Linked DNA regions of Homo sapiens: region 1 is linked to region 2. The links come from fine-mapping of genetic effects on gene expression. A gene starts in region 2. The other region holds a variant in brackets. All regions are shown on one strand. Distances are from middle to middle.

Region 1 (4,411 bases), 110 kb after region 2:
CAGGCTGACTGAACTAGTTACTTCCGTAGGCAGAGACGGATCAACTGGCAAGATGTCAGTCCTTCTATGTCATTGCCAGAATTCAGACAGCAAATGCCAATTTTTGTTTTGTTTTGTTTAAAAAATATATTCAATTTTTCAAAGTTACAAATATAAAATCCCAGTTGTTTCCTAAGCCATTAAGTTCAGCTTATAAATATTATTATTTTACTTATATAACAAAAGGAGTTTAATATTCAATCCAAGTTTTATTTAATTAAGCTCCTTTAAACACTTAAGTGGCATTTATATATTAATATATTTCATTTCCTTGAGTACTTAATTTATCTGACCAAGACAAACCTTCCCAAGTACTTATAGTCCAATAAATTAAGCTCATAAATACAGCAAATCTTAGCCATTTTAAATGTTCCAAAACTACATAGAAACTTAGCAATGATTCCACCACTGTACTCCAGCCTGGGCGAAAGAGCAAGACTCTGTCTCTAAACAAATTTAAAAAAGAAAATTAGACACTTAGCAAGATTTCAACTTAAAATTCAAGTATAAATACTCAACATTTTTTACTTAGCATTACAAAGCAAATCTGTTACTCTCACAAAGTTGTTAATCTTACATTTGTCAAGGACTTAAAATGCAAACTGCAAAGTTTCTTAAAACAAATGGTTATGATAAGATGTTCTTAAACATGACTATGTTATGTCTTGATGTTCTTAAACATGCCTATCCTTGGAAAGCTTGGAACTGAGGGATTATGCTGGGGCAAGGAACCAAAATGAGTTCAAGAGGGAGGCAAGACTTCAGAACCATAGAAAGTATGAAATGAAAAAGTGACAGAACCAAAGTAATCAGAGACATGGGAGTCAGGGATAACAGATGGAAGGCAGGATTGGGGATAGAGAGGGAGGATATGCAGCATTGCCTGACAGTGAATGGCTGAAGTTCATCAGGTAGATGAGGGTAAACTGCAGCATTTAAATCTACTCTAGGCCGGGCGCGGTGGCTCACGCCTGTAATCCCAGCACTTTGGGAGGTCGAGGCGGGTGGATCACGAGGTCAGGAGATCGAGACAGTCCTGGCTAACACGGTGAAACCCCGTCTCTACTAAAATATACAAAAAATTAGCCGGGCGTGGTGGCGGGCGCCGGTAGTCTCAACTACTCGGGAGGCTGAGGCAGGAGAATGGCGTGAACCCGGGAGGCAGAGCTTGCAGTGAACTGAGATCGCGCCACTGCACTCCAGCCTGGGCGACAGAGTGAGACTCCGTCTCAAATAAACAAACAAACAAACTCCAGAGCCTGAATGTGGATAATTTTGTTGTCTTTATACATTGCTAACACTCATACTTGTGGATATAAAGGGTTCATTAAAAGACTCACTTGGCAAAATGATTGCAAAATAGGGGAAATTGAGAAATCTTTCAGGGAAGCTGAATGCGGAACAAGGAACAACAGATGTGAGAAAAACTTCTTAAAAGAAACAGACATAAGTTCATCTAATGGACATTAAGTAATAACGAGTTGTGGAGGATTACAATTTCTCATTTTTATATGCTGGGTAAAGTGACTGTAGCTGCTAGATCAGTAGAGGCATAGTAAAATCCCTGATGGAGTTGTATAGTAATTTATGTTTACAGTCATTTATATTGGCAAATAAAATACAGGACAATTAATTAATTTCAAATTCAGATAAATAACCATTTTATTAAGTATGTAAGTACTTTCCAAATGTTGTAAGGGAAATATTCTTGCTAAAAACAACCTATTTATCTGATAATTCAAATTTAACTTGGATTTTCACATTTTTTAATTTCCTGTATGCCAAACCTGTGTCTACTGACATTAAATAGGCTTCTTCATATTAACCATGTGCTAGTCACGGTTCTCGATGGACATTTATTTATGAACAAAACAAGTTACATCTCTGTTCTTATGAAATCTCCATTTTAGTCTAAGTTTAGGAGTGAGGTTGGGGAAGGGACATGGGGACATACAGTAAGCAAACAAATAAGTAAATAAACTATGAAGTCAAAATGTGTTTCATAGAACATTAAGAGAAAAATGTAATAGGCTGAATGACTTCTTAGCATATGCAGTGAATTACTGTGAACATTTAAAACAAAGCATTGTTTTCAATGAGTGAGTCAGATGCAATTTTGTGTGGGTTTGCCTTTCTATTCAGAGATGGCAAGATTATGTAAGATTATCAGGTATTCTAGAGTTTAGACTGTATATAAGTAATACTGTGGAACATAAAAGAATGCATAAGAAGTTTATGTATCATCTATCTTAAGACCTTAATTTGAAATCAAGTTCTACCACATATTTGTTGTATGACTTTAGAGAGTTAAGCTAATATCTAAAGATTACACATTTTTACTGTCTATACATATATGGAGAGACATATGACACATATAGGATATAATGAAAATATAGATAAAACAGCTGATATTATATACAAAGTTAACATCATCTATGCTACAGTACCTAATACAACACGATAGCCAGTTTTAGACTTACTAGTTATTGATACCTCTTTGGCATGAAGAAAACATTTAAATAGTCATTTATAGCAATGCACAGGTATAATAAAACTCCAAATTATTAAAGAGGGTATTATTATCTCTCCTTTTGGAGATGGA[G/A]AAAGTGAAGTACAGAGATTCTGAGATACTTTCAAAGTGTCTCACAATGCTTAAGTGATAGAGTTAGCATTTGAACTCAGGGTGGCTAACCTCAGAATGTGTATCCTTGAATGTTACACAATACTGACTCTAGTAATGTGGTGAAATGCCTGTGATTGTTTCAGAATTTATCTGCATTACATAATGCTCAAAAATGTCTTGAAAAACTGGTTGGCAAAATAAGGAAACGTAGCCTTTCTGGAGACTCTAATATTTCCCTATACTTAACTAAATTTCTCAGGTATAGAACAATTGGAGAAGAATCCATCACCCCGGATTGTGAAAACACATCTACCGACTGATCTTCTTCCTAAATCTTTCTGGGAAAACAATTGCAAGGTATACTCCAGACTCCATGTCAGTTTTTTAGTATGGCCCTATCCCTTTACCCACTCACATAGTTTATTTTTTAAAATATTTTTTGTTTCTTTAACCATATACTTGCAACAATCTATACTATACCCACTCACGTTGTACGTAAATCTTCAAAAGCCATTAAGTTTTAGTCTGAGTTTATATACTCAAGTTTTCCAAACTTGAGCAGCAACAGAATCCAAACCTCAGCACAATATTACTACTTTTTTTTCCAACTCTCCCTAGATCTTCAGGCCTTCTGTAAAAACTGAACTTAAGGACGTTAGTCCTTATTTGAAGATTTGGTATAATTCTTTGTTGTAACATTTGTTCCTGCTTATCTGCTTTTGGGGAAATTTTATACTTCAAATTCTATTTATTTAATAGCTACAGTGCTATGTAGATTATGTGTTTTTTTCTTATCTGACTTTTGACAATTTGTGATGTGTGAGAAACTTTTCTAAGTTGTTGACTTTATGAATGAAAAGTTGTTAATATTATACTCATTATTATTTTAACGGCTGCAGGATTTGTTCTGATACCCTGTTTTGTTCCTGATCTCAGTTATTTGTGCCTTCTCCTTCTTTTTTGTCCCTCTTAAGTATATTAATTTTATTGATATTATTAAAGCTAGTTTTTCGTTTTATCAATTATTTCTGTTGTTTATCTGTTTTTAGTATCATAGATTTCTGCTTTTTTTCTCTATCGTTTCTCTCCATCTACTTACTTTGGATTTATTTTACTCTTCTTTTTCTAATCTCTTTAAGTAGGAACTGATATTATTGATTTGTTTCTTTCCTATTTTCTAAAATAAGCCTTTAGTGTTGTAAATATGTTTCCTCAGTAAAGCTTTAGTTGCATCCCACACATTTTGATATGTCATGCTTTCAATTGCACTCAATGCTATGCACATTTTTATTTTATCTGAAATTTCCTCATTTACTGCAAGATTTTGAAGTGTATGATTTAACTTCTAAGTGTTTGAGGATTTTTATGTTTTCATTCTGTTATTGATTTCTAATTTTATTCCGTTTTAGTCAAAGATCATACTCTACATAATTGCAATTCTTTTAAATTTCTTATGGTTCATCTTGTTCTATCTTGTTAAATGTTTTCTGAGCTCTTGAGCAGGTTGCATATTCTTCTTTGTAGGTGGATGTATTCCCTATATTTTTATTACATCCTCTTGACCAATAATGTTGTTCAGTTCTTTTATATCCTTTCTTGTTTTATGTCTAGCAGTTCTATCAATTGCCTGACAGTGGATTGTAAACATGCTCAACTATGACTAATGATGTGTCTATTCTTACTTCAGCTTTACTGGTTTTCATTTCATGTATTTTGAAGTTCTGCTGTTTGCTGTTTGGAATTCAGAAT
Region 2 (4,411 bases):
GCTTCCCAAGTAATGGGGATTACAGGTTAACTTTGACAAAGGCTCAGTTAAACATGCAACTTATTTTCACATTATTAATATTAAAATCTTGCTATTTATAAAAAAGACTCTATAGGACTTTTAATCTTGATCCAGAGAAAGTGTGTGCTACAGAAAAAGCCCAATAGTCACAAAAAAGCCACAGTAATTGTTTTGGGAACTCTGTCACACAGAAGTGCCAGCTTTACACTTGTTTTCAGTGTTTCAGAGTATAACAGCAGTATGTCTGTCTGCATATCTGCCCACATTCTTTTTGTTTGACATTATTATAATACTTAATAAATGTACATATTTTCAAGATATCTGCCCAAATTCTGAGGGTCAAGATAAACATTAAAAACCGGTCCTTATCTGAGATCCATTTTTTTTTTTGACATTGACTCAAACATTTTGTAACTCAGTCTGTACCCATTACTCATGGAGAAGAATGAGGTTTCAGGGCCATCTTGCCTGTTGTTTTGTTTTTATCAGTAAGTGAATTCTTAACATTAGAAAGATTTTCTAAGAATAAATGTGTATTGAACATCTGTGGTTGCCAGAATTACATGAGTTAGGAGCATTTGTGACATCCCTGCAACCAATTGTTTACAAGTGAAAAACAGACAGATGTATTGAGGTTAAATCTGTTTATATTAGCTTGTGCTCATTTTCTGATTTTTTTGGACTAAAAAATGTTTTCGCTAAACAATAAAGGAAACTTCATAGATTCTTGTCATTAAAAAAATAAAGTGAAGCTATGCTGCAAGGTTAAAAATTATATTCTGTATTAAATTTGTATATATATACTTAATTTTTAAAGGTACATAGTAGGCATATGAATGAGTAAATTTGTACATTTAATGATTGTTTTTCAACACATATTTTATTTAACTCAAATAATATGACAGACTGCATAAAACAAAGTAAAATGAAAATCTAAATTTGGGTCCCTGGTTACTCCTTTTCTACCTTAATTTTCTATTATGAAAAGCCCCATTTTTCAGAAACCACTTAACACCTCTTATTTTGCATAAGGCTAGATATTGCTTTCTATAACAACTATAGCCCCCTTAACTTCTTATATTTCTTGAATAAATCAGCCACTTTTATTCAGTAAATACATATTCAATGCCTAGCCTACTAGATGCCAGAAAAAAATGCTAATTACAGAGTAAGACCCTGTTTTCAAGCTATTTATAATTTAAAAAGTACTCTGGACAAGCAAACATTGATTTACAACACAGTAAAATAAATACTAGTTAGGAGAAAGTTCAAAGTTTAAAAGTCACTAAGAGAAACATAGAGTCTTGTAAGAGTGAGCCTCTCAAAGGAAATGTAATCTAACAGTAATTAATAGAGAAATAAGAAATAACAGGGTTGGAGGTGTTGATGGGGTGGAGCAAAGGATAATTTTCTTAAGTGACAGAGTAGGTGCAGAAAAATGAAAAGAAAGGTAATGCATTTGTGGATTCCACAAACCCTTGGCCATTTATTTTTCTAATTCTCTTGTGTAAATTCCAAGTGTTGGTAGCTATCATTACCTGAAAAATTCACAGTATGCTATTTTGTGGTTGGGAGCAGAGAGAAGTCAGGTTTCTAAAATAATAATCGAAAGGTGAGTGATGTTTACATTCTTTCTTTAGCTGTCATCTGCTTTTTAAAATTTTCAGGTCTGCTTAAGAGTTAAAGGCAAAGAGTTTAAATAGGTGTTTTCCAATTGACATGTTAAGATACAACCCAATGACTTCTTTGGCAGGTCTTAATAAACTGAGCTAGGTCTGATTGAGGGTCCTTGCTGTCTTATTTCTTTCCTCATTGGCTTCTCTTTCTTCACTCCAATAAGTTTATTCTTTTGAAAGTTAACCATAGTCATGCTATTATTTGTCAATGAGTGAATAAGGGATTCTCCCTTCCCAGTCTCTCTTCCCAGGCCTCTTCTTTCTCATCTTTTCCTTTTCTCCCTCCTTCTTCCCCAACCCCTGACGGCAGACTTGGGAATTTGAATATGAGCCAAATAATTAAAAAAATAACAGCAGGATATTTCTACATCTCCATGAATGAACATGACTCTGTGTGGTTACTGCAGCTGCAGGTATGCATTTACATCTACATTAACTATTGCATCATGGACTTCATGAAGCCAAGCCCCCAAATTAATCTCCACCTCCTTCTCTGGCATTCAGGATATAAACTCACCAGAAACATTCCAAATGCAGAAGTGGTTCTCATCTTTTTTTGCAGCTTAAGATCTGCCTTGGTATTTGAAGAGATATAAACTAGATCAATTTCTTTCACAGGATCAACTAAACAGGTTGTACTTTTTTATTATTAATATCAATACTTAGATTTTAGATATATAAAATATAGAATGAAAATTATGTATTACAAAGCTCTTAAAAATAAAATATACAAAGACCAAAGTCTTGATTGATACTTTAGTTAATTAATGATGTGAAGCATTTAAAACCTTTTAAAATAATTTGTTGTTAAAAATAATATTTTACATTTATGTAGTATTTTGTTGCTTATTGCTTTAATGTAAAATTACAGTACCATTGCTATCTTAAAAGTGCTGAATGCTGGACGTGTTCTCCATTTTACCAATGAGAAAATAAAGCAAGCAGGGTAGAAGGAGGTAGAATAGAGATTGACTTTTAGTTTTGTGTTCCTGTGATAAGGGGTCTTGCAAATAGGGGCATTACTTTCATGTAAGAAACTTCAGATAAATATGACAGAAATCCAAAGTCCTTGGTAAATAATTAATATGTAGGTCATTGACATATATTGCCTTTTAAATCTGTGAATCCTTACTTAGTAGAAACTAGAGAGCTTCTTGATCTAATAATTGAACTTAACAAATATTTCTGAACATCTACTTTGTGTCATAGTGCTGGAGATTGGGATAGAAACATGTACAAAAGTCACTTTGCCCTCATACAGGTAAATCTAAGAAAGTAGGGACTATGAGAACCCTATGTATCTATATCCACCATAGTATTCTAGCACTGACTACAGGGCCTAGGAAAAGGGTAGGCATTCACATAGGGAGTATTTGCTGGATAAAAGGCAGGTTGGAAGATGCAGGAGGGGAGTATGCAGAAAGAAAGGAAGAAAGAGAGGAAGGAGAGCGGGAAGGAAAAACACTTTCTGAGTTTAATTGAATTTATAAGTCACAATTTTAACAACTTTTTTGATGTTTATTTCTGAACAACTGACCTACATACTCAGAATAAAAAATTGACAATTTCTAACTGAAATAGATCTTTTGAGAAAATGGGGATCACATAGGAAGTAAATCCATACATTGTAATATGAGACAATTTACCAAAAGGAATAGAATGAGAAAAGATATTTTATTACATGCCACCTACTTTGCCTCTCAGACCAAAATTGACTATGAAGGAGTAGCTGGAAGTCAGCCAACCACTTAATGATAAATCTACCACTCCCAGCTGACTATAAGCCAATTCTTATAAACTTGGCTGAACACCAAGAAAGTAATTCACATGAGTAAGCAAACCAATAGGCAGGACAAATCGTGGTGCATTTTATACACATTTCTTCTAGTGAAAGATCTATTTTCTGAGACTAAGGAGAAGGCTTGGGGAACAAGTGATTTATTGATAAGGCTAATATGCATTTTGGAAATAGAAATCTCATATTTTTGGTGACATTACATCTGATATGATGTAGAGGAAGGTTTTTTAAAAGTTGAGATTGTCCTAAGGGCTGGGGCAATTTATGTGTGTAGAAGAACTTATCAGGCAGGTTTTTGGGCAAATGTGAACAGGAGGAAGATCTAGAAAGGCTAATGTCAGGAAAGACAAAATGTGTTGGGAAGCTATGTCAGAAACTTGAAATAAGCTAAGTTTGGCAGTTGAAAAAACAAGATACTAAAGGAATTTGAAAGCTAATGAAAGAAAGTATGCCTAATTAAAAATTCTGTTAGTAACCTTGAACATGAAATAGATTGTCATGGGATCAGGAGATGAATTAGGAAATGATAACCATCTTGCTTAACCTTATCATTTTTAGCCAAGTCATTCAATGGGAGTATCCACTACCTTATTGATCGAATGGGGAAAAAAGTAATTTTAAAGGTCACAGAGGAATCCTTTATACTCTCAAGATTCCATTTCTTTGATATAACCATTACAGTGTAATTAATTTCATCTTTTCTTTTAAATACATTCACCAAGCATTTGGTTTATTTAAAAAAATGATACATATTCAGGAAGTCAAAAATCTCTGACTTAGATACCCGGCAATAATAATCAAATGTAATGATCTTTATTGTTATTTGACATATACATAATTGGATAATTTGCTAAAATAACTGTAATTCTGGACCTCTTTGTCTTTTTATATGCCCCAGCAATTTTGAAAGAAATTG

Evidence for each region. PIP is the estimated chance that this variant, and not a neighbour inherited with it, causes the effect. A credible set is the group of variants that fine-mapping cannot tell apart.
Region 1: its variant is the best candidate, but not a certain one, in a credible set for the expression of SULT1E1 in lung (TOPMed, PIP 0.59).

Annotation. Positions count from the first base shown.
Region 1 is chr4:69,748,329-69,752,739 of GRCh38, reverse strand. It overlaps SULT1B1 (sulfotransferase family 1B member 1), which reads left to right. Exons shown (of 8, transcript NM_014465.4): 4 at 2,922-3,019. Among named protein-coding and RNA genes, the nearest start is that of SULT1B1, 10 kb to the left of the region's middle. The variant G/A (reference allele first, on the strand shown) is at 2,642.
Region 2 is chr4:69,857,967-69,862,377 of GRCh38, reverse strand. SULT1E1 (sulfotransferase family 1E member 1) reads left to right here and starts at 2,233. Exons shown (of 8, transcript NM_005420.3): 1 at 2,233-2,329.